Linked DNA regions of Homo sapiens: all the other regions are linked to region 3. Evidence: fine-mapped expression QTL. A gene starts in region 3. Each other region holds a variant in brackets. All regions are shown on one strand. Distances are between the middles of the regions. Region 1 overlaps FBXO41 (F-box protein 41). Region 2 overlaps CCT7 (chaperonin containing TCP1 subunit 7). Region 3 holds the start of PRADC1 (protease associated domain containing 1). Region 4 has its middle 23 kb from the start of NOTO. Region 5 has its middle 28 kb from the start of RAB11FIP5.

The links. PIP is the estimated chance that this variant, and not a neighbour inherited with it, causes the effect.
Region 1: its variant is the best candidate, but not a certain one, in a credible set for the expression of PRADC1 in blood mononuclear cells (TOPMed, PIP 0.65).
Region 2: its variant is the best candidate, but not a certain one, in a credible set for the expression of PRADC1 in whole blood (TOPMed, PIP 0.64).
Region 4: its variant is the best candidate, but not a certain one, in a credible set for the expression of PRADC1 in transverse colon (GTEx, PIP 0.86).
Region 5: its variant is the best candidate, but not a certain one, in a credible set for the expression of PRADC1 in whole blood (TOPMed, PIP 0.68).

What each region holds. Positions count from the first base shown.
Region 1 is chr2:73,259,594-73,264,695 of GRCh38, reverse strand. FBXO41 (F-box protein 41) reads left to right here. Exons shown (of 13, transcript NM_001371389.2): 6 at 177-418; 7 at 643-758; 8 at 866-1,018; 9 at 1,388-1,483; 10 at 3,838-3,956; 11 at 4,149-4,307. Among named protein-coding and RNA genes, the nearest start is that of FBXO41, 22 kb to the left of the region's middle. The variant T/GT (reference allele first, on the strand shown) is at 2,720.
Region 2 is chr2:73,251,770-73,256,871 of GRCh38, reverse strand. It overlaps CCT7 (chaperonin containing TCP1 subunit 7), which reads right to left. Exons shown (of 12, transcript NM_006429.4): 12 at 3,867-4,232. The coding sequence ends at 4,011. It overlaps FBXO41 (F-box protein 41), which reads left to right. Exons shown (of 13, transcript NM_001371389.2): 13 at 1-2,182. Among named protein-coding and RNA genes, the nearest start is that of CCT7, 20 kb to the right of the region's middle. The variant T/C (reference allele first, on the strand shown) is at 3,131.
Region 3 is chr2:73,230,124-73,235,225 of GRCh38, reverse strand. It overlaps PRADC1 (protease associated domain containing 1), which reads left to right and starts at 1,987. Exons shown (of 5, transcript NM_032319.3): 1 at 1,987-2,132; 2 at 5,013-5,102. The coding sequence starts at 2,066. CCT7 (chaperonin containing TCP1 subunit 7) reads right to left here and starts at 918. Exons shown (of 12, transcript NM_006429.4): 1 at 842-918. The coding sequence starts at 847. RefSeq lists enhancers at 1,031-1,100, 1,221-1,270, 912-1,443 and a silencer at 1,731-1,940.
Region 4 is chr2:73,176,751-73,181,852 of GRCh38, reverse strand. No RefSeq gene overlaps it. Among named protein-coding and RNA genes, the nearest start is that of NOTO, 23 kb to the left of the region's middle. RefSeq lists a silencer at 4,389-4,468 and enhancers at 4,291-4,964, 4,965-5,102. The variant A/T (reference allele first, on the strand shown) is at 2,932.
Region 5 is chr2:73,138,588-73,143,689 of GRCh38, reverse strand. No RefSeq gene overlaps it. Among named protein-coding and RNA genes, the nearest start is that of RAB11FIP5, 28 kb to the right of the region's middle. The variant A/G (reference allele first, on the strand shown) is at 2,830.

The DNA of each region.
Region 1 (5,102 bases), 29 kb before region 3:
GAGATGGGGTACCGCAAAGGACAGGGAGGCAGAGGCCCCTTTTCCTTCCTCCCTAGGCCCTGGTACCACAGCATGTCCATTCCTCTGCAGATCCTACCCTGCCCCAGCTCCCCACACACATCCCCACACCAGCCTTGACCCTCCACGCTCACTTTTGAACCCCTGGTATTCTGCAGCCCGCCCCGAGGGAGGCAGTGGGCGGGGTCGGCGAGCAGAGAGGGTCAGCCCCTCACGCTCCAATGAGGTCATCAGCCCAGAGATCCTGAAGATGCGAGCTGCCCTCTTCTGCATCTTCACCTACCTGGACACGCGCACACTGCTGCATGCTGCCGAGGTCTGCCGGGACTGGCGCTTCGTGGCCCGCCACCCCGCAGTCTGGACAAGGGTGCTGCTTGAGAATGCCCGTGTCTGCTCCAAGGTACCTGCCCCTGCCTGCCTTCTGTGCCCTGCTGTGAACCCACCTTTCCCCCTGGGTAGAATCTGGCCCCTTGAGGTCTGGTCCTTGCAACCCTTACAACACTGTAATGCCAACCTGGCTTCCCTGAAATGCTCTCATGGGGCCTTCTATCCTGGGGCTGGCCCACCTCCAGCCAACCAAGTTCAGACCCCTTCATCTCCAAATGTCCTTCCCCTCCCCCACAGTTCCTGGCAATGCTGGCTCAGTGGTGCACCCAGGCCCACTCTCTGACGCTGCAGAACTTGAAGCCCCGGCAGCGGGGAAAGAAGGAGAGCAAGGAGGAGTATGCCCGGAGCACCCGGTGAGGCCTGCGATGGGTGGGTGGTGGGTGCTGTTGGGCCACAGACCTGGAATTAAGTTTCCCAGAGGAGGAGGTTGCCAGCTCTCTGACCTCTTGGTCATCCCCAGGGGCTGCCTGGAAGCTGGGCTGGAGTCCCTGCTGAAGGCAGCTGGGGGGAACCTGCTGATCCTGCGCATCTCCCACTGTCCAAACATCCTCACCGACCGCTCGCTCTGGCTGGCCAGCTGCTACTGCCGTGCCCTGCAGGCTGTCACGTACAGGTGGGTCAACCGACTAGAAGCATGGCCTGTTCCCTCTAAGCCCAGGGTCCTACCGGATCCCTAGGTGCTGCATAGCCTCCCCCAGGGTTCTCAAGCAAAGGGATCCAAGAGCTCTATGGCTGAAGGAAAGGAAGCCTTGGCAAGAGCAGAGGCCACCACTGTGGGCGACTCCAGCTTTGTCTTGTATATTTTCTTTTTCTTTCTTTCTTTTTTTTTTTTTAAATGGAGACGGGGTCTCGCCGTATTGCCCAAGCTAGTCTGGAATCCTGGGCTCAGGCGATCCCCAACCTCGGCCTTGACCTCCCAAAGTGTTGGGATTACCAGTATAAGCCACCCTGCTGCCTGACTAGCAGCTTTGTCTTTTCACAGGAGTGCCACAGACCCCGTGGGCCATGAGGTCATTTGGGCCCTGGGCGCAGGCTGCAGAGAGATCGTCTCCCTCCAAGTGGCACCACTTCACCCCTGGTGAGCCCTGGCAGGTTTGGGGGATAGGAGGGGGGACACGGTTGGGCCTGGTCTGGGGCTGAGGACTTAGCAGATCTGAGCCCATTCCACAAGCTATTAGGACAGATCCACACACATTAATCTGTCCATTGAGGCATTAGGAGCAGGGCTTTAAAATCAGACCTGGTTGGTCGAGCACGGTATCTCACGCCTGTAATCCCAGCACTTTGAGAGGCTGAGTCGGGCGGATCACCTGAGGTCTGGAGTTCGAGACCATCCTGACCAACATGGAGACACCCTGTCTCTACTAAAAATACAAAATTAGCCGAGCGTGGTGGTGCATGCCTGTAATCCCAGCTACTGGGGAGGCTAAGGCAGGAGAATCGCTTGAACCTGGGAGGCAGAGGTTGCAGTGAGCCGAGATCGTGCCATTGCACTCCAGCCTGGGCAACAAGATGGAAACTCCGTCTAATAAATAAATAAATAAATAAATAGATAAATAAAATCAGACCTGGGGTCATGTCCTGGCTTACTGGCAGTGCCACCTTGGCAATCTCAATCATGTCTTAGTTTCTCAAACTGCAAAGTAAAGGTGGTATTAGGAACTATGGACCTTAGGGCTGTTGCTCGCCCAAATGAGATCAGGTACACAAAGCCTGCAGGGTCCACAGTAATTGTTCAGTAAACACCAGCTAAAAACCACCAGCTTTGTTTGACATATGAAAGGTGGTTCAGGGAGGTCAGTGTATGAAAGAGCTGGTCATTGGAGAATCCAGGTTATGAAATCATTTCTCACTCTGTTTGGAGTTCCTCTAACACACCAGGCTCTTTTGCTCCCTACATTTTGCCTCTCTCCACGCGACAGCTCCTCCCAGTCATCCAGTGTGCCTTCTGTAACACCCTGGGTAGAGTGTGTCACTGCTCCCCTGCCTCAATCCCCACTGCATGTTGCCCTGACCCCTCTGTCATCTACTTTGCAATAATTTCTTTTTTTTTTTTTATTTAGTTTTTGAGACAGAGTCTTGCTCTGTTGCCCAGGCTGGAGTGCAGTGGTGCAATCTCAGCTTACTGCAACCTCCACCTCCCAGGTTCAGGCGATCCTCCTACCTCAGCCTCCCAAGTAGCTGGGACTACAGGCATGGGCCACCATGCCCAGCTAATTTTTGTATTTGTAGTAGAGACGGGCTTTCACCATGTTGGCCAGCCTGATCTCAAACTCCTGACCTCAGGTGATCTGCCCGCCTCGGCCTCCCAAAG[T/GT]GCTGGGATTACAGGCATAAGCCACCGCGCCCAGCCCTACTTTGCAATAATTTCTTTATATTTCTATCTCCTCCACCAGATGGGTTGTTCTCAAGGCAGAATCTAGGAATGTCCATTTCTGTATCCCTAGTACCAAATGCATAATAGATGCCAGAGAGATGTTTGTTGCCTGGGCAAATGTTGAGGGTTGAAATGTTTAGGGAAATGGCATTTGGTGTGAATGGAAAGGAAAGTTGGGGCAATCAGGAAGGGCCTTGCTAAGGAATTTAGGTTTTTTTGCATTTTATCTAGAAAGTATTGGAAGCTATTTGGCGGGATTTTAGATTTTAAGAAAGGGATTAAGATCAGACTGTTAATGTTCTATGCCCCCCACAACTTCTGCCACCAAAGAGACTGTCCACTCTTTGAGGGTAGAGACCATGTCTATGTTGTCACCGCTGTACCCCCAGGGCCTAGCTCAGTTGTTGTTGACTTGATAACCACTTGCTGAATGGCAGAGTGAGTGGATGTAGGAATGAGGGGCTCCCTATCTGCAGTGTGGAGGATGAGATGCAGGGAGACTAGTGCTAACCCAGAGAATGCCAATGGTGGTCTGAACTGTGGGTTCAAGAGTACTTAAGGCCGGGCGCAGTGGCTCACACCTGTAATCCCAGCACTTTGGGAAGCCGAGGCAGCAGATCACTTGAGGCCAGGAGTTTGAGACCAGCCTGGCCAACATGGTAAAATCCTGTCTCTACTAAAAGTACAAAAAAATGAGCCGGGCATGGTAGTGCATGCCTGTAGTCCTGTCTACTCGGGAGGCTGAGGCAGGAGAATTGCTTGAACCCAGGAGGCAGAGGTTGCAGTGAGCCGAAATTGCACCACTGCACTCCAGCCTGGGTGACAGATTGAGACCCTGTCTCAAAAAAAAAAAAAGAGTGCTTGGGAATCAGAATCTGCAGGACTTGGTGGATGAGATGAGGGCAGAGGAGTCAGGGATGATCCTGGTTCTCTGACTTGACCTGCTGGGTTGTTGGAGGAATGCTTGCCTGAGTCAGGGAGGGGTCCCACAGGAGGAGCATGCTGGGTTATCAAGCATCCAGAGACTTCCCTGACGGCTCCCCCTTCCCATTCTCCAGCCAGCAGCCCACACGCTTCAGTAACCGCTGCCTGCAGATGATTGGTCGCTGTTGGCCCCACCTGCGGGCCCTGGGGGTCGGGGGTGCCGGCTGTGGGGTGCAGGGCCTGGCATCACTCGGTGAGTCTTTCCTTGGACTGGGGTGGTGGGTAGTGGGAAGCAGGCATGGGTGCAGTGCTGCCTTGTGAAATCCCACAGGGGCTTGGGGCTGCAGCCTGGGTGGTGGCAGGTGGCAGGGTGGTAGCCAGGGTGCTGGCTGCAGGGGTGACCTGGGGAGTGTGTCAGCAGGATCCCCCTTCTTCCTCTTCCTAGCGAGAAACTGCATGCGGCTGCAGGTCCTGGAGCTTGACCACGTGTCAGAGATCACCCAGGAGGTGGCAGCAGAGGTCTGCCGGGAAGGCCTGAAGGGACTGGAGATGCTGGTGCTCACGGCGACTCCCGTCACCCCTAAGGCCCTACTGCACTTCAACAGTGAGCACTGGGGGAATGAGGGGCAGGGTACGACTATCACCTGCCACGGGGCCCTGTCAGCAGGTATCCTAACTATCACTGGGGCAGATGGATCAGAGTCTCCAGCCAAGGGCAGAGGCAGGGGGACAGGTTAAGAGCACTGGTTCTAGAGCCTGACTGACCTAGGTCCCAGGTCTGGCTCTGCTACTTATTAGCTGAGTGATGTTGGGCAAGTTACTATACCTCTCTGAGTCCTGTATTCCCATCTTCTAAGCTGACTTTCTAGGATGGGTGAGAGGATTAAATGAGATGATATATGGAAGCCCCCCCAAGGACAGTTCTCAGGGTGAAGACTCCTCTCTCCCTGGACTCCAGATCATACCTCCTTGGCTTCCACACCTTTCTCAAACCACCCACTCCACTCTCAGTCACTACTCCACCTGCACTGAGGACCTGGCACCCAGTGTGGGCTGCTCCTGCCCAAGGAGACCACCAGCCAGGACCCTTTGGCTCCTGAGAGGACCCCATGCCAACTGCGCCAAGGTGCCTTGACCCTCTTTCCAAGACCTTCCTCCCCCTTCAGCCACATGGGATACCCTGGACTTTACCACCAGAACTAACTGCTCAGCCTCCAGAATCATGACCTCCAGGCCCTTCTCAGTCGCCTGATCTTCCTCTACCTCCCCCGACTTCACGACATATCCAGTCCCTGAAGCCCTCTGTCCCCAAGTATTTGCCCCACCTCCCCCTCCTTTGTGCTTCAGCCTGGATCCACGAGCCCCACCTCAGCCACTCTGTTCCTTGCCATTCATCCCC
Region 2 (5,102 bases), 22 kb before region 3:
AGGCTCTAGGCAACTTCTCTCTGGGTGGTACACACTAGAATGCCTGGCATTAGCCCTAGAAAGGAGGTTGGGGTGTATGGGTAGTGAGCTAGGGTGGGAGAAAGGTGGTGCTGAAAGGACAGATGCTAGTTGTAGTTTCACTCACTCATTCATTCATTAGTGCAACAGTACTGAGCACCACCTGCACTAGAGGCAGAGGGGTGAACAAGATACCCTTCTGCCTGGGGGGACGTCCACTTCCCATGGGTTTGGCTATTTCCAGGAAAGCCCCTCAGTCCTCCACCCTGTTCTGGCTGTGTGTGAAGGATGTGTGTGAGCAGGCCCAATCCTTTGCAGCAAGAATGAGAGGTCAGAGTATTCCATTGCACACGCACCCTGGGGCTGACAGACTTGTGCCCCCTAGCCTTCATGCATGCCCAAGCACTGGCAGCTTTGCAGCCCCTGCCCCACCAGCCCCTTGACGCTCTTCTTTTGTTCTCTCCTCGGGGATGAGCTCTGCTGCTGAGTAGGGAGCTTTTGCTTGCTGGGAGGCTCTATGCATGGATTTTTTTGGTGACCATACAGCTAGGGCTGAGGATGGGAACAGGGACAGAGGGCCTGGCTATCCCTAGAAGCACTTCATCCATCTTTACCCACCCAAACGGGATCCCTTCACATCTCATACCCAGTAAGATGCAAGAAAGGAATATCTGAGAGCAAGCAGCCCTGCTCCAGGGGCCCCAGGTATGTGTAGAGGCCCAGTGGGGGTGGCCACTTGGTGTTTCTACCACCCCCTGCCATCCAGTCTGGCCCCAGTACCTACCTGGGAGGTTGGTGTACTTGGCTTAAGTACTTCATGCTTTATTCAGGCTGCTTCCCCACAGCACCGGCAGGAAATGAAGGTGCACTTATATGCATCCCTGCAGGAATAAAGAGTGGGTGGCCTGCCCAGCCCAGCACCACAGCCTTTCCCCAGCCAGGAGAGACCACCTAAGGATCAAGGCAGCTCCTGTTTTCTTGGTTCTGTGACACTCGAGTCTGAGCCAGCCCCTCAGGAATTGCCTCAAAAGAGAAAAACAAAAAAAAGTCCTCCTTCCCAAGGCCTGCTACTCCAAGGTTTGGCTCCATCCCTTGCCTTTGGGTCCTGCCTATTTCCCCACTCCTGGTCTCTTATCTTTGGGGCCACCAGTGGGGAGTCACCCGGGCCCCAATCCCTCTAAGGCGCTAAGTTGAAGGAGGCCTTCCCAGAGTGACTATTGGTGCCAAAGTCCCAGTTCCTGTTGGACTTGGGGTAAAAACAGGAGATGGTGAGTGGGTGTAAGGCCCAAATGCCCAGAGAAGTTAACTCGAACCCATGGGACCTGTCCCAGCCTGTCAGTCCCTGATGAGTGTAACTTCCTTCCCCTGGGGGCCTGGCCCTTCTCTCCAACCCAGTGGCCATGCTTTCTCACCCAGCCTTGTGCCCGGCCTGCATTTCTGTATATATTGCTGTGTATTGTGTGTATGTATGTATTCCTGGACAAGTGTGTTCATCTGCAGCCCTTGCCTGAGGATAAGGTTTAGGATTGGGTAAAGATCAGAATACCAGGGCCAGCTAAGGCAACGACTCCCTCCCCAAACCCTTGGGACCTCAGCCAGTCCCAAGGCTGCCCTGACAATCAGGCAGGCTCCCCACCGTGAGGCCAAGCCTCCTCTGCCACTGCCAGCATGGCCCAAGGGAGGCTTGGCCTTGGGCTTGCCAGCCTCAGCTCTGCCCTGACAAGGGTCTTGTATCCAGGGCAGAGGCCTGAGGTGACCCAGGCTTGCTTTGTGGCTGATGCCAGCAGGCTTGGTTCTAGTGGGCACCACTGGTGGGCAACCTCCATAACTGGCCCTTAGGCCCTACCTTCCTACACAGCTAGGCTATAATGGGCCTGAGTGAGAGGGTAGCTTCCCCAGCCCCAAGCACAGGCAGAGGGGTGGAGAGCAATTTTTGGTTTTATTTTTGTTTCTGAAGTGGTGCCTGTACCTCCAGCCCCCAGGGGGCCTTCCCTGGCCACACTTCTCTGCCCCACCCAGGCATCGCCATCCCAGCACTTTGCTCCATGTCACCCGTAAGATGCCCTTTGCTGAATGTACCTGAGTGTATGTATTTAAAAGGACTCACATGGGCATCAGAGAATTTATGGCTCTGTATCCAATAAAAAAGATGGTGAAACTGGTCTATCTGCCCCAGAGAGGTAAATGGTATGTGGCCACACTTATCATCTGTGTTATCATGGTCTTTCTGCAGCTCAAGTGCAGAGAGGCAGGTAACCCAGGGGAATGAAGTATAACAAGACTTGCCAGCGGGCACAGTTGCTCATATCTGTAATCCTAGCACTTTGGGAGGCTGGGGCGGGAGAATCACTTGAGCCCAGGAATTCGAGACTAGTCTGGGCAACATAGTGAAACCCTGTCTCTGCAAGAAAAACTGAAAAATTAGCTCGGCATGTGCCTGTATTGCCAGCTCCTTGGGAGGCTGAGGTGGGAGGATATCGAGCCAGGGAAGTGGAGGTTACAGTGAGCTGAGATCACACCACTGCACACTCCAGCTTAGTTAACTGAGTGAGGCCCTGTCTCAGAAACAACAAAAACTTGCCTCAGGACTGCAGAAAAGCCACCTAGGGTGACTGTCCTGCCACCGCTCAACCCTGCTTTCAGTGTGTGTATCCAGAGGAAACGCCTTGAGATACATCATTTCTGACTCTCAGCTAGGAGAGACTACCTTCAAGGACAAAACCAGTACAACAGGGCAGCAGGCACTGCCCAGCCCCTCCCTGGCTTGACTGCCTACTCAGGAGGCTCTGGCCAGCCAATCAGGCTTTGACTGCGGGAGACCAGGTTGACATCATGGCCTGGCCTTGACTTCCTCATTTTACAAAATGTCCTTCTGCCCCTGACTTGATTCCTCAGGTCCTGAAATATTTAAAATCAGAAAAAAGAATAAGTGTTTTTAGGCTTAAACTGTGTCTCTAACATAAAAATAAACATTTAAGTCTCACTACTCTTTGAGCCAGCTACTCTTACCCTGTCATACAGGTAGAATAGCAGAGGCTCAGAAAAATTAGTCTACCTAAAGACCATCAAGTTAGGAGGAATGCCAGACTCCAAAGCCTGGACCTGCCTGCCA[T/C]CCTCTGTGCTTTAGAGTCCATCTAACCAGGAGTGGCTGGGTTCAGAGAATTTTTTTTAAAAATCACTTCCCAGTTTTAGCTAGCAAGTCTCAATGGCTGACAATGACATCATCATTTACCTCCAGCTTTTAACAACGACCAACTACAGCAGGGTGCAGGCCAGCTATCAGGACCAGTGTAAATCAGGAGGATGTTAGACACTGCTGGATTTCCAGCTCATCTGTGCCAGCCATTCCAAACTCCCATTGGTCACAAGAAAGCAGAAGGACCAAGATCACTGGGGGCTGAACTGAAAAGACTAGGTGGGTGCTTTCAGTCGTCTCCTTAGTAGACTTCCAAGGGATCACTAGAGTTTAGAGAGCATAAGCCCTCCCTAAAACACCCTTCTCACAGTCTTGAGTAAGAGGGAACAAAAGACTAAACCAAAAGAATATGGAGATAGAAGGGGCAGACAAGGTAATGTAACCCATTTACTCAAACCAGAGAAACCCTGAGAGCAGTGTCTGGCTAGGCCAGGGCTAAATAAGATGATGCCAGAAGAAAGCAACTGCGTGTTGTCCAGCCACTTCTGGAACAAAGAATGCAACCACAGTGAAACTTCCAGACGGGCCACTCTAGTGGAGCTCACCCCAGGATGCTCTTGTCTCCCTGTTGGACAAGTGCATGTAAAGCTAAAATTCTGAGCTACAGCCAGACATTTATGAGTACCATGCCAAAATAATTTACAAAGTTATCTGAAGTCTTACATTTTATTTAAATAGCCTCCAGTAAGAAGAGAGTGGGCCAATTACTACCCCTTCCTTGTAAAATGAAGTAACCAAGCCAAGGAGGGTAAGTGCACCCAGCAGCCAGCCAGCCATGTGATGGGTGGGGTGCCTCTCAGTGGGGGCGGCCACGACCACGGCCCCGGCCTGCTGCTGTGGGAGCATCCACAGTCGAGCGGGGGTTCTTGATGGTTTCATCTACAGACACGATCAGGCACGCAGCCTCAGAGGCTGCTGTCAGCGCATTGATCCGCACCATAGCTGGCTCCCACACGAAAGCTTCAAAGTTGTCAGCAATGTCCTCGTTGTTGATGTCTACTCCATACCATGTACCCCCCTAAAAGAGTAGGAAAAGAAAGGAGGTAATATGGAACTACTTTCAACTTTCCTCTTGTAAACTGGTACTCCAAAAGACACTGCTAGGAACCCGCAGACTCTCTGAACTTGGTGGCATTTCGCTGAAGAATACTGCATCTTCCTATGAGCATGCCAGGAACCTGGAAACACCCCTACTCCCGCCAACTCCTCCCCTTAGCCCTGGACATACCACACAAGACCTCTGGGATCTTCTCCCAGGCAAGCTGTTGTGTTTTGGGGCGGCCCCATCCTCAGGTCACCTGAGGACTATATATATATATATATATATATATATCAAACAATGAGTTCTCAAGATAAACAGGAATAACAAAAATACTATCCCATCTTTCATCTCATTGCTTCAAATAGCCCGATTTTACAGATGAGGCAAGTGAGACACAGAGGTAAAGTGACTTTAAGCAAAAGTCCTAATACAAGCCAGAAGCAGGGTCATTCACTGGGTGCTAAGCACTTAACAAACCTCTATCTATTTAACAAATGGAGAAATTAAACTCTCAGAGAGGTTGAAGTAACTAGCCCAGGGTCACACTTGTAGGGCTCTGGAGAGCTTCACCACACCAGTAAGCCCACTCCATGTGGTCAGTATGTGCTTCCAGGAAGGTGGATGCAAGGTTCCTCCTGTGGTACCATAAGAAGCAATCATACTCTTTTTTTTTTTTTGAGATGGAGTCTCACACTACCACCCGGGCTGGAGTGCAGCGGCACGATCTCTGCTCACTGCAAGCTCTGCCTCCTGGGTTCAAGCAATTCTCCTGCCTCAGCCTCCTGAGTAGCTGGGATTACAGGTGCCCACCACCACGCCTGGCTAATTTTTTGTATTTTTAGTAGA
Region 3 (5,102 bases):
AGAGAAAAGAAGTGTGGGAAGTAGGGCTACAAGGAGCACTTTAGGTGGCTCCAGGACTCACAGCAACTCCCTCGCCCCAAATTTCAAGAAAACGAGACCCAGAGTTAGGTAGCCAACTAGAAAAGCCTTTCTTATGTCACCAGAGTCCGAGCCTGGGTCTTCCCACCTCCGATACAGTGTCTCCATCTACCTTTCCCGTTCTCCTGGCTGAGAGGCTGCAACCCCCAGCAACCACCAGGGCCTGGTACATTCAGTAGGCACTAAAGACGCGTTTATTTAATGACTGAGCGAATGAGTGAATGAATTAAAAGTACTAGGGAAGGCGTCTGCTTCTCTGCACGCTGCGGTGAGGGTCAGCGAGTGAACATAGTGAGTCCCTAGGCGGGCACAATATGAGGTCCCCAATGTGCCTGTGCCGGTTCCAAGAAGCACACGTCTTTACAGCCCGCAAATCTCAGAGCAGCCCCAGCTTCCAAGTCTAGCTGCCGACCGCGTAACCACGGCCGACCTGCACTCGTTTCACGCAAGTCCCGATCATGCGGGGCTAAAAAAGAGGTCCCCGACGTGGGTTCGCGGGCCCGAAGCACCCTGGGACTTGTAGTCCCCAACCGGCCAGCCCAGAGACTCCTCTAAAGCCCCACGCAGCCCTCGCCAACGGCTCCAGCGCCGTGCTCGGGCCGAGCCAGGCCGCGGCTGGCTGGGGTCGCCCCTAAGCTGGGGATCTGGGCGAGGACAGAGGCGGCAAGCAAAAGAGGGTCCTACAGAGCAAGCCCAGGCCGAGCGGCGCCGGCCACCGGCCAGATGGCAGCTGATGGCGACGGATGCGCGAGACGCCACTCACCATCATTTTGGAAGCTTATTCAGCGGCCCGCCACTCTCCCCTCTTCTCCGAGACCGGGCCGCCCAGCAACCCACAATGCCTCGCGCAATAGAAATACCCAGAAGCTTGGGCCGGGAGAGGAAGAGAACGGACCACTTCCGCTACTCTATGGTTCGTTACCACCGACTCGGTGCGGCTAGAAGGACCTGAGGCTGGGCTTCGGGGACTCTCTAGTGAGGGGCGTTCATTAAAGAGGGGTCGCCGCATTTCGGTCGTGCTTCTTAGAGCACGGAGGGTCTTTGCTCGGCCCGCATCACCTACTAACTTAATTCCACCCTCCTCCATCCCCGGACGCCAGACCAAGGAATGCAATAAAGGCAAAAGTGTGGGACGCAAAGTGTGGGATAGGCTGGTGCCAAAGCACTTTACGTGAGCGATCTCATTTAATCCTCACAACCCTATTGCGTTGGTCCTATTAAGGCCATTTTACTGATGACAGAAAGGAGGCTGAGAGGTCAAGGTGTCCAGTGTCACAGTTACATAGTCAGTGTCAACGGGACGAGCGTGGGAAGCTGCCCCCAATGCCCGTTTTCTGGCTTTGCACTGGCCAGAGGCTCCTCGTGGATGGCGTGCGCCAGGCCGCGGCCCCAGCGCCTATCCACGGTGAGCGCGCAAGCGTTGGTGGCACTGGGCGGAAGACCCCCTGGCGCAAGACGAGTGCCTTCCCGTGAAGGCGTGGGGAGGAGGGAAGCGCAGCTGGGAGGAGGGAAGCGCAGCTGGGAGAAGGCTAATCGTCGTCAATCGAGGCGGCCTTGGAGTGGACAGGACCGAGACCGCAAGGGTTAACGGCCTCGACTATCGACAGCTGAAGCAAGTCCGGCTACGGGCACACCTCCAGTGCTTGTCCTCCCTGGCCCGCCCACCGCCAGCGAGGACCCGGAGAGTATGCTGGGGCGGGGCTGAGGCGAAGGCCGGTTGTAGCTGTTAAGAGTTTAAGCCAATCAGCCCCCGGCTCCACTTCTCTCGACCAATAGGAAGTAGGCTAAGGCGCAGAGGCGGAAAGTGTGGCTACATGAGCAGGCGTCAGAGCCAATCAGCCTTGAGCCTCGTTCCCGTCGTCCAGCCCGCGGCGAGAGCGGGTATGTGGGCGGGAGGCCGGAGCAGCTGTCAGGCTGAAGTCCTGCGAGCGACGCGCGGCGGGGCGGCGAGAGGAAACGCGGCGCCGGGCCGGGCCCGGCCCTGGAGATGGTCCCCGGCGCCGCGGGCTGGTGTTGTCTCGTGCTCTGGCTCCCCGCGTGCGTCGCGGCCCACGGTGAGCGGCAACGGGTGGGACTGCGTTGCAGGGCGGGGCTGGCCGTCCAGCTTGCGCGCGTCTCGGGTTGGGGGCCAAGGGTCACCTTGGGGACCCTGCGAGTTCAGAGCAGGACAGGTCTGGGAGCGGGCGGCCGGAATAAGTGGGTGGTGGTCCAAGGACATAAAGTGGGCGCAGCCTGAGGCTGAAGCTCTGACTCCTCACCTTCCCACGACAAAGCAGATCTCCCCACTCGCCCCTCCCCGCCCACTAGCGCCGACCCAGGTGACTTAGGGTGCGACCAGAAGGGACAGCTAAGGAAGGATACTACAGGCTGGAGATATGTATGTGAGCATTCACATGTACACAGGAGCACACATTCCTACACGTGGGCACACACGCACAAACCGTTTACACCTACACAAGCACATAAATGTATACATCTATGCACATAAGTGAGCACATACGTATACCCACAACTTACACAAATAAGCACACACAAAGGCAAGCAAGGGTTGGGGAGGAGGGAGTGAGTTTGACGCTAGTCCAGGAAGGCTTTCTGGGGGTGTATTTGTATCCGAGAGGGAGTCCCCACTCCCAGGACTGTATAGCCCAGTGCCAAGCCATGGGAGCTCTAACTGATGGCTGTGATTTGGGCAGTAAACAAAGACAGCTAAAGCCTTAATGCCATCCTTGGTACACAGTAGTGACTTGGTAGTTTGTTGATAGACTAACAGACTTGTGACAGCAGTTTTCTTTTTTTCTTTTTTTTTTTTTTGAGACGGAGTCTTGCTCTGTCGCCCAGGTTGCAGTGCAGTGGCCCGATCTCGGCTCACTGCAAGCTCCGCCTCCCGGGTTCACGCCATTCTCCTGCCTCAGCCTCCCAAGTAGCTGGGACTACAGGCGCCCACCACCACGCCCGGCTAATTTTTTTGTATTTTTAGTAGAGACGGGGGTTTCACCGTGTTAGCCAGGATGGTCTCGATCTCCTGACCTCGTGATCTGCCCGCCTCGGCCTCCCAAAGTGCTGGGATTACAGGCGTGAGCCACCGCGCCCGCCCATGACAGCAGTTTTTATCTTTCAACATTCCGCAGTCTCTCTGGGTTAAGGAAACCAGGGACTCAAGTCCAGGTACAACATTAAACTTTGGTGCTGAGGAGAAGATCCCATGCCCCAGAAAAATCTAGTGGTCTGGAAATTCTCTTCATCGGTGCTGTGGAGCTAGATATAGTTGTTCACCCATTCAGGAAAGTTTATAGGGCTATCCCTATATTGTAGCCACTGTGCAAGACACTGGTGACTCTTCACTGAATGAAGTTACAAAGTGGAAGAGGCAGATATTTAAAAATTATGAATCCAGGGCAGGTGCGGTGGCTCACGCCTGTAATCCCAGGACTTTGGTAAGCCAAGGTGGGAGGATCACAAGCCCTGGCAACAAGGCGAGACCCCATTCCTATTTAAAAAATGAAAAAAAAAAATCAGCCTGGTCAACATGGCGAAACCCTCTCTACTAAAAAATACAAAAAAAAATTAGCCAGGCATGGTGGCGCACGCCTGTAGTCCCAGCTATTTGGGAGGCTGAGGCATGAGAATCGCTTGAGCCTGGGAGGTGGAGGTTGCTGTGAGGCGAGATGGCGCCACTGCACTCCAGCCTGGGTGATAAAGTGAGACCCTGTCTCAAAAAAAAGAAAAAGAGGCCGGGCGCGGTGGCTCACGCCTGTAATCCCAGCACTTTGGAAGGCCCAGGCGGGTGGATCACGAGGTCAGGAGATAGAGACCATCCTGGCTAACACGGTGAAACCCCGTCTCTACTAAAAATACAAAAAATTCTCCGGGCGTGGTGGCGGGCGCCTGTAGTCCCAGCTACTCCGGAGGCTGAGGCAGGAGAATGGCGTGAACCCGGGAGGCGGAGCTTGCAGCGAGCCTAGATCGCAACACTGCACTCCAGCCTGGGTGACAGAGCGAGACTCCGTCTCAAAAAAAGAAAAAAAGAAAAGTTATGAAAGCTGTATAATTACAAATTATGTTGAAAGTCCCCATTTATTAAAAAGTACATTTGAATGGGTATGGGAGGGCAATCATGAGGCAGAAGCTTTCTCTGAGGAAGTGACATTTAAGGTGTGACCTGAAGGATGACTAGGAAAGAGTCAGGTAAAGGGGTGGAAGTAGGGTGGCGTGGGAGTAGGGGGCCTTCCAGGCTCAGGGAACAGCCTGCAGAAAGACCCAGAGAAGTGAAGACACTGAAAGGCCAGTGTAGCTTGAACACAGGATGGAGGAGATGAGGTTGGAAGAGTGGCCAGGGGCCACAGCAAACAGGGTCTTGTAGGCCACAGTTTAAAAAGAGTTTAAATTTTAAATGCAAAGGGCAGTTATTGAAACCCTAGGTATGGTGATGTGCTCATAATTGCTAAGATGTTTTCGATTTCTGGTTGTTGCTTGGGGAGCAAGAATGGAGGCAGGGAGGCCAGGTAAGAAGCTGAGCTGTCAGGACAAGAGATGATAGTGACTAGACTTAAGGGGATGGCAGTGGGACCAGAAAGTCAACTTTTAAATTTTAGTGAGAATTGCTTTGTACGCAGGCCACTACATCTCTACCCTGAAACTCCCAGGTCTTCAGAGCAAAAATACTAACCCTGGAGCTCTCAGTTTTCCTGGCTTACTGCGTAAGCAGCAGCAGCAGCTGATATAAGCCTCTGGGGTTAATGACTCTGCATCAACTCTATCCTCCCCAGGACAGAGGCCATCTAGCCCCCAACCCTGCCACTAGTGGACCCCGTTGGCTGAAGCCAGGACCCTGAGCCCAGACTATAGCCAGCCCAGCTGAAGACACAGGGTCTGGGATCTGAACCTGAACCAGCTTGTTCCTGGGAGGCTTCTTACCTGTACTCTTTATCCTTCAGGCTTCCGTATCCATGATTATTTGTACTTTCAAGTGCTGAGTCCTGGGGACATTCGATACATCTTCACAGCCACACCTGCCAAGGACTTTG
Region 4 (5,102 bases), 53 kb after region 3:
ACTGATGGACATTTGGGTTGGTTCCAAGTCTTTTCTATTGTGAACAGTGCCGCAATAAACATACGTGTGCATGTGTCTTTATAGCAGCATGATTTATAATCCTTTGGGTATATACCCAGTAATGGGATGGCTGGGTCAAATGGTATTTCTAGTTCTAGATCCTTGAGGAATCACCACACTGTCTTCCACAATGGTTGAACTAGTTTACAGTCCCACCAACAGTGTAAAAGTGTTCCTGTTTCTCCACATCCTCTCCAGCACCCCTTGTTTCCTGACTTTTTAATGATTGCCATTCTAACTGGTGTGAGATGGTATCTCATTGTGGTTTTGATTTGCATTCCTTTGATGGCCAGTGATGATGAGCATTGTTTCATGTGTCTGTTGGCTGCATAAATGTCTTCTTTTGAGAAGTATCTGTTCGTATCCTTCGCCCACTTTTTGATGGGATTGTTTGATTTTTTCTTGTAAATTTGTTTAAGTTCTTTGTAGATTCTGGATATTAGCCCTTTGTCCAATGGGTAGATTGCAAAAATTTTCTCCCATTCTGTAGATTGCCTGTTCACTCTGATGGTCGTTTCTTTTGCTGTGCAGAAGCTCTTTAGTTTAATGAGATCCCATTTGTCAATTTTGGCTTTTGTTGCCATTGCTTTTGGTGTTTTAGACATGAAGTTGCCCATGCCTATGTCCTGAATGGTATTGCCTAGGTTTTCTTCTAGGGTTTTTATGGTTTTAGGTCTAACATTTAAGTCTTTAATCCATCTTGAATTAATTTTTGTATAAGGTGTAAGGAAGGGATCCAGTTTTAGCTTTCTACATATGGCTAGGCAGTTTTCCCAGCATCGTTTATTAAATAGGGAATCCTTTCCCCATTTCTTGTTTTTGTCAGGTTTGTCAAAGATCAGATGGTTGTAGATGTGTGGTATTATTTCTGAGGGCTCTGTTCTGTTCCATTGGTCTACATCTCTGTTTTGGTACCAGCACCATGCTCTTTTGGTTACTGTAGCCTTGTAGTATAGTTTGAAGTCAGGTAGTGTGATGCCTCCAGCTTTGTTCTTTTGGCTTAGGATTATCTTGGCAATGTGGGCTCTTTTTTGGTTCCATATGAACTGTGAAGTGAAAAACTTGTAGCTTTTCTAAGCAAACATAAATACCTGCACTCTGGCAAGCTCCTCTACCTACCTGCCTACCTCCAAATCTTATATTTAGTTCATCATTTACTTCAGTGATGCGCAACCTTTTTCTGCATTTAGGAACACCTTTTTTTCTTTGAGACGGATTCTCGCTCTGTCGCCAAGGCTGGAGTGCAGTGGCACGATCTTGGCTCACTGCAACCTCTGCCTCCTGGGTTCAAGCGATTCTCCTGCCTCAGCCTCCCAAGTAGCTGGGATTACAACCACCACACCCAGCTAATTTTTGTATTTTTATTAGAGACAGAGTTTCACCATGTTGGCTAGGCTGGTCTCAAGTGATCCGTCCACCTCAGCCTCCCAAAGTGCTGGGATTACAGGCATGAACCACCGTGCCCATCCCCTATTTTTAAACGATTTTTTTTTTAAATTTTGGATCTCAGAAGCAGAGGGCTGAGATATTCTCTCCTGCTCTTTTGTGGGCATTGCCATCAGAGGTCCACACTAGACCCCACTCTTCATTCTGGCTTTTTCTCTTTCCCCCTATTTCCTCCTCCTCTCCTAGTAAGCCCTTCTCTTGTGTATTTGCTATTATTTATGGATCCATGTAAAATGTGCAGGGCTGTTCTGTATTTGTTTTTAATTTACATAAATGGTATTGTGTATAAATCTCTTTTTTAAAACTATTTTTAAAGTCTCTCTTTGGTGCTGTATGCATGGAAGTTTCATTGCTTCTAATAGCTGTTTTCTAGTATTTCACGTTGCAGATGAAAAGTCGGCTGTCAGGTTAACTATTTGCAGAAAATCTTTCTGTTGTTAAAAAGTTTGGAAGGTTTTTTTCTTTATCATCAGTATTCAAAAGCTTCAGGAAGATGATTGGGTGTGTATCTTCTCTCCACATGCCTTTCCAGCTGTAGGCAACAGGCAGTTGGAGGGGGTAGTTATCAATTGAGTTTTGCTTGTGTTGAGTCTGAGGTGTCTGAGAAACATCCTAGTGGAGATACCTAACCAGAAGTTAGATAACAGAAGTTGTCTGGACTGGATATAGATTTGGGAGTCATCTGCATGTGGGTTCTAGTTTGAAAAGAAAAATGAATGGATAAGCTCAGAGATGGAGGAGAATTGGTCAAGCAGGAAGATGAGTGGGCCAAGTTGCCAAAAGCAGAGGATCTATTACTATCAGTGACCAATGGTTTTCCTCCCCTTTCTTCTTTTTTTAAAACCATAATAAAATATTTCGAACACCAAGAAAGTTATAGATAAAAATGTAAGTACTCAAGAACTCACCATTCATCATTCTTGACTGTAGGTTTTGCCACTTTTACATGAGTTTTTTTTTTTTTAAATAAAAGCACATTGCAGACACATATGGGGCCTTTTGTACCCCTCTCCAGTCCTATTTGCTGGAGTCACCTCCAAATCTAATTTGGTATTATTTACACTCACAGACTCATACAATTCCTCCATATTTATTGACCCATAAGTAGCTTATAGAAGTATTTTGTATGCTTTTAAACTTCATATATGGGGCCAGGCACGGTGGCTTATGCCTGTAATGCCAGCACTTTGGGAGGCCAAAGCAGGAGGATTGCTTGAGCCCAGGAGTTTGAGACCAGCCTGGAGAACATAGTGAGACCCTGTCTCCAAAAATGTTTTTATTAAAATTATAAATATAAATTTAAAAAAGAAAAAACTTCATATATGTAGTATCATACTGTACTAATGCTTCAGCTTGCCTCTTTCACTCAGACTGTTTGCAAGTTTTATGTACATAACCCTAGTTTATTAATTTTCATTGCTATAG[A/T]GTATTCCAAAGATGAATATATTACACTTTGTTTATCCAGTTATACTGTTAGTGGATATTTGGTTGTGTCCAGTTTTTGGTTAACAGTGCTACAAAGGATAGCACCTGCTGCTCTGGGCTGACCGCCACACTCAGGCAGTTCTGGGAGTTGATTGGAGATCCCTGAAGGAGGTAAGGGCTGCTTCAGAGACCGCTAATGGAGCATCTGCTATATGCTAGATATTGCAAAATTGTAGCCCTTAATCCTCTCCACAACCTATGAAAATCACAACACCCCCCCCCCCTTTTTTTTTTTTTTTTTTGAGACAGAGTCTCACTGTCAACCCAGGCTGGAGTGCAGTAGTGTGATCACATGGCTCACTGCAGCCTTGACCTCCTAGTCAAGCCATACTCCCTTAGCCTCCCAAGCGATTCTCCCACCTCAGCCTCCCTAGTACCTGTGACTACAAGACGCATCACCATGCCGGGCTAATTGTTTTTTTTTTTTTTTTTTTTTTGGAGAGACAGGGTTTCGCCATGTTGCCCAGGCTGTTCTCAAACTCCTGGGCTCAAGCAGTCAGCCCTCCTCGGCTTTCCAACGTGCTACGATTACGGGCAGGAGCCACCGACCCCGCCGAAAAATCACCAATCTTTATAAGGAACACAAGGCTCAGAAACAGGGGTAACACAACTAGTCCAGGTCACGCAGCTAGTAAGTGGCAGAAGGGGGGGGGCACCCTCTCATCCCTCCAGGCTCCTCTGGCCCTGACCTTGCATTGTCCCTCCTTCCCCAGCGAACGCACTGCCTCAGCTCCCCTCTTACAGCCGCAGCCCTGGAGGAAGGGATGCTTCTGGAACTGCTGGGGTTGGTGCTCCGCAGTTGACCGGGACATTCCTGGGTTTGGTGCTGGGATGGAACCTGTCAGTGCCTACTGCCTGGGTATACTCCACCCAGGGGCAGAACAGGTGACTCACAGCACTGCCCAGCACAGAGCTAGGCCTGTGCCTGTTTTGGGGGTCCAGGTTCCTGGGTGCCAGAACCCCATTTTCTCAGTCTCCACAGAGCTGTACGAGGGGTACAGTGCCCTGGAGAATTTAAGCCCTTCATTAATGGTTTGTAAAAGTCTGGACTTCCTTTTGGGAAACCTGGGCTCCAGTCCTGCTGCTTGATGCAGGAACGTCACTGAGGTCCCCTGAAAAGTGGGGTGATAGTGTCAGGTGGTACTGAGCCCAGTGATGGAGGCAGCAATTTGTTTTGTAAGTGCCTGCGGCTCCTGGGCGCAGTCCCAGCGAGGACGCGAGAACGCGCGGGGATGTGAACGGTGGGGGGCGCCCGGAACCGAGGAGCTGAAGGGCCCGGCGGACGTAGGCCGTCATTTCTCGCGGCGAGCAGCAGGGGGCGCGCGCAGACTGTACAATGCTGGCGCCCCACCTCCCGGCAGCGGGCGGGGACGCATCCCGCGGGTCTCTAGAGCGGGAGATCGCGCGGGAAAGGGCCGTGCCGGGAAGGGGCTGTGCCGGGAAGGAGCGGAGGGATCAGTGCTTCGAAGGGATCTGTACGCCAAGATGATCCTAACTCCTTAGGAGCTTCGAAGCTACGGGAAATGAAGCTGGAACGGGGGAGAGGGGGAAGGGCGCTGTGCCCCGGGGGCGGTAAAGGATGGGTGGTGGTGGGGAACGGGGACACTGTCGAGCGCTGACTACCGCTGCGCTCGGGCTGGTGGAGTCACTGCTTCCTAACTGTGGGGAAGAAACAAACATTCCCCGCCCCTCCTCCCAGGAGGAAGAGCCGGTCACTTCTGGAAGTCCCAGCAGCTCACTACGGAACTTAGGGGAGGGTGAAGAAGAGAAGGCGTAGAGCGGGGAAGTGGCTTGGTCAGTTCAGAAGCACCAATAGCATAGGACTTCATAACCTTCCAAGAAGAGGGCTGGTTACAAAGCGTCTTCGCCTCCCAGGGGCTGGGTTGGGGGTGTCCCAGGAGCCAGAGTGAGGCATGAGTGGGGAGTCCCTGCGTCACTCCAGAGAGGAGGCCCGCTTGGGCACAGGTGCCCCAGGGACCAGCCTACTGCGCTTTCAAGCCCCTACGTCTTTCTAAGGGATGAGGGATCCTATCCTAGACCAAACCTGCCAGCCCATACTGAACATACCGCCTTTCTTTGAAAGAAAAGTGGGGGGGAGGCTAAAGACCTTC
Region 5 (5,102 bases), 92 kb after region 3:
ATAGGCCTCTCTTGGCTGCTCCAGTTTTTGCTAAGATGGGATTTTGCTTGGGCTGTTGGCTCCCTACCCAGGTTAAACACAAGAGAAATTATAGAGGGAAACATGAAAGCCAGGAAATAACAACAGAGAAGAAACTCCTGTGGAGCTGACAGGCTGTTTAGAACTGGGGAGTGTGTGCCTGCATGTGGGAGTGGGGGGTGGTTGCAGCCTGAGGGAGGTGGCTATGATGGTAAGGATGAAGGAAGAGAATAGTGATTGACTCTCTACTCTTGCCTCTCCTGCACCTTTGCATTGGCCAGTCATCACTTGCCCTCACGGCAGAACTGCAGAGGCTCAGACCACTCGCTGGTCAGGATGTCCATGGGGATGAACTCAGGGCAGCGTAGATCCCTGCCAGGGTGAGGAGTTGAATTAGGGAACAACCATTTTTGAGCAATCCCTCCACTCTTTCCCCTCCAAATCACCAGCCTGGCCCATCCCATCAGTGGAGACAGCTTCCTTCTAGCCACAGGGTGGAAAGTGAAACCAAGGCCCCTGGGCAGGATGAGAACAAACCTGTGGTTGTGCAGAGCCTGGGGTGCTCCACTCAAGATCCGAGTCCTCATCCTCTCCTTGAACTTAACAGACTGGTAGATACTAAGGAGTGGCCTTCTGCCTTCCCCAAAGGGCATTACAGGGCAATAATGAGACACTTGAAGGGCAAAACTAAACCAGAAGAAAAAAGGAATGCACAACATATGACACCAGAAGCAGCAGGACTGGGCAGGAGTATTAGTATCAATTGACCAACAATTTCAAATCAGCTCTATAGGCCAGGCACAGTGGCTCATGCCTATAATCCCAGCACTTTGGGAAACCAAGGCAGGCAGATCACTTGAGTTCAGGAGTTCGAGACCAGCCTGACCAACATGGTGAAACCCCATCTCCACTAAAAATACAAAAATTAGCCAGGCGTGATGGCAGGCACCTGTAATCCCACCTACTCGGGAGGCTGAGGCAAGAGAATCACTTGAACCTGGAAGGTGGAGGTTCCAGTGAGCTGAGATCATGCCGCCACACTCCAGCCTGGGCGATAGAGTGAGACTCCGTCTCAAAAACAACAACAGCAACAACAACAAAAACAAATCAGCTCTATAAATACACGAGAGATATGAGAAGTAAGGTATGAGCAGTGTAAAACAAGAACAAGAAAAAAATTAAAAGAATCAAATGAAAATATTAGGTATGAAAAAGATAATGGAAAGAAAGAACAAATAAATTAGTAAGTAATAGTTGAAAAGTAAATTAGAATATCATATTGAGAAACTGCAAGAAGAACTCACTGAAGAATGAGGAGGAAGAAAAAGCTAAGAAATAAGGAGACTAGAAGCAGAATACCCACATTCATATAATGGGAATCCAGAAGAAAACAATAAAAATGAATGGAAAAATACATTTGAAGAAACAATAGACATACATTTTTCATATTTAGAAAGAATGAATGACTTCAGATTGAAAGGGCCTACTGCATAGAAAATAAGAGAGAGAAGGGAAAACCCGCATAAGATATAGTATGGTGAAATTTAAGAATACCAAACAGGAAATTCTAAGAGAATTAGACTGACGTCAGACCTTTCAACAACAACATTTGGGTGTAAGAAGATAATGGAGTAATATTTCTTAAGTAAAAAAGAAAAATAAGTTTGAACCTACAATTTTACATCCAGCCAAGTTGTCATTCAAGTGTGAAAAGGTAAAAATAAAAATATTTTCAGGCAGGGGGTGCACAGTGGCTAATGCCTGTAATCTCAGCACTTTGGGAGACCAAGGCAGGTAGATTTCTTGAGCTCAGGAGTTCAAGACCAGCCTGGGCAACATGGCAAAACCTCATCTCTACAGAAAATACAAAAATTAGCAGGGTGTGGTGGTGTGCACCTGTAGTCCCAGCTACTCGAGAGGGTGAGGTAGGAGGATCACTTGAGCCTGGGAGGTGGAGGTTGCAGTGAGCCGTGATTGTGCCACTGCACTCCAACTTGGGTGACAGAGTGAGATCTCATCTCAAATAAATAAATAAATAAATAAATAAATAAATATTTGCAGGCAACGAGGCCTTAAAATGCTTGCCTTACAAAGAACCACATTGAAAACCATCCCTGGAGTGCCAGAAAACAAGGCCGCATTCAAAGGTCAATGGAGTAATTTCAAATGGTTTAACCTAATATATAAAACAAATTGTTTTAAAGATGTTGACAATTGTTATATCTAGGTGGAGGGATGTATTGATGTTCATTGTACTATCTTTTCTGCTTTTCTAGAAACATTTTACAATTAAAAAAAGTTAAAAACATTTTGGAGGAAATACTCAAGAAGAAAAACCTAGGAGACTTTGCAAGAAATATTTAAATAAAGGTGATTAAATACATTGGTAACATATTCTGTTGTCTAAACAACAACAGCAGGAACAGCAGCAGACTTAAGACCAAAGACAAAGGGAAAGCAAACCCATAAGAATCCCAAATTAAAATTCTGGACAATATTACATTGATAGTGGGTTGTGAGTATCTAGAAATTTGGGAAATCCCCAAATATTTGGAAATTAGCATATTTTTACATTATCCATGGATCAAAGAAGAAATCACAAGGAAAATTATTAAATATCTTTTGAACTAAATGAAAAAGAAAATGCAACGTATCAAAATGTATGGGATGCGGCAAATGCAGCATTTAAGGGAACTGTATAGCTATAAATACCTAGATTAGAAAAGAAGAATGGTCTCATATCAACAATCTAAGCTTCTACTTTAAGCAACTGGAAAAAGAAGGAACAATTAAATCTGAAGCAAACAGCAG[A/G]AAGAAAATAAAGATTAGAGTGGAAATAAGAAATAGAAAACAGAAGTCCGGGCGCAGTGGCTCACACCTGTAATCCCAGCACTTTGGAGGGCCGAGGCGGGTGGATCACCTGAGGTCGGGAGTTCGAGACCAGCCTGACCAACATGGAGAAACCCAGTCTCTACTAAAAATACAAAATTATCCAGATGTAGTGGCGCATGCCTGTAATCCCAGCCACTCAGGAGGCTGAGGCAGGAGAATCACTTGAACCTGGGAGGCAGAGGTTGCAGTGAGCTGAGATCGCACCATTGAACCATTGCACTCCAGCCTGGGCAAGAGGAGTGAAACTCTGTCTCAAAAAAAAAAAAAAAAAAAAAATAGAAAACAGAAAAATGATAGAGAAAAATCAATAAAACAAAAGGTCTGTTTTTTGAAAAGGTTAACAAAATTGAGAAATTTTTAGCTAGACTGACCAAGAGAAAGAGAAAACATAAATTACAAAATCACTACTGACCACACAGAAACAAAAATAATTACAAGGAAATATTACAAATTGAACAATTTGGATGAAATGGACAAATTCCCAGAAAGATACAGATTATTAAAACTGACTCAAGAAGAAATAAAGTCTGAATAGGCCTATAGCAAGTAAATAATGGGATTAGTACTTAAAATCTCCCCACAAAGAAAAACCCAGTCACAGAACACTTTACTAGTGAATTCTATCAAATAATTTAAAAACACATAATACCAATCTTTCACAAATTATTTCAGAAAATAGGGGAAGAAAGTACACTTCCGAACTCATTCTGTGAGGCCAGTATTACCCTGATTCAAGACAAAGATATCATATGAAAAGAAAGCTACAGACCAACATCCTTTTTGAACACAGATGTAAAAATCCTTAGCACAAAATTAGCAAATAAAACCCAGCAACACATACATAGAAGCGTATACCATGACCAAGTGGGCTTTATCCCAGGAAAGCAAGGTTGAGTTAACATCTGAAAACCAATTAAGATGAATCACTGTATTAATAAAATAAAGGACAAAATCATATGATCTCAACAGATGCAGAAAAAACATTTGACAAAATCCAACATCCATTGATGGTTAAAAAAAAACCCTTGAACTTGGAATAAAAGGGAGCTCTCTTAACTTGATAAAGCATATCTAACTGAAACCTACCATCAACATTACATATAATGATGCAAGACTGAATGTTTCTCCTTGAGATCAGGAACAAGGCAAGAATGTCAGCTCTTGCCACTTTCAATCAACATTGTCCTGGAGATTCAAGTCAGTGTGATAAGGCCAAAAAATAAGAATAAAGGCATCAACATTGGAAAAGAAGTAAAACTGTCTTTTTTTCCCACAGATGACGTGATCCTGTATATAGAAACAACAACAAACTACTGTTGTCGCCTGTAATCTCAGCACTTAGAGAGGCCAAGGCAGGAGGATTGCTTGAGCCAGCCTGGGCAACATAGCAAGACCCATCTCTAAAAACAAAACAAAACAGATAAACTATTATTGTTAAGATAGCAATATTGTAATATTGCCCAAATGGATCTGCAAATTTAATGCAATCCTGTGACATAACAAGAAATATATATTTGGTCTCTTCCCCGGGTTCCTAGCACAGAGCTGCTAAAAGTCTTGTGATTCCCCTGAGTGATAGGGGTGAGAGGAACACCTTTGGTTATTCATAATAAGCCCCTTTCAACCATACCTGGGTTTATGCTAATGAGGTGACTCTTGGAGGATGGGGGCTGGTTGACAGAGGAACCAACCTTGTAATTAGAGGGTTGGAATTTTCAGCCCCATCTCTTTGACCTCTGGGGAGGGGAGAAGGGCTGAAGATTAATGTCAGTCACAGAAGGTCAATGATTTAATAAATCATGCCTACATAATGGGACTTCCATAAAAACCCTAAATGACAGGGTTTGGAGATCTTCCAGGTTGGTGAACACATTAAGGTGCTGGGAGGGTGCGAGGCCTGAAAGGCTATGGAAGCTCTGTGCCCCTCCCTCCTCATACCCTGTCTCTTCCATTTGGCTGTTCCTGAGTTGTATCCTTTATAATAAACCGTACATGTAAGTGCTTCCCTGAGTTCTGCGAGCCATTACAGCAGATTATTGAATCTGAATAGGTGGTTGTAGGAAACCCTCACTTGTAGCTAAGTCACACAGAAGTGTGGGTAACCTGGGGACCCATTACTTGAGATTGGCATTTGAAGTCAGGGGCAGTATTGTGGGACTGAGCCCTTAAGCTTTGGGGTCTCACACTAACTC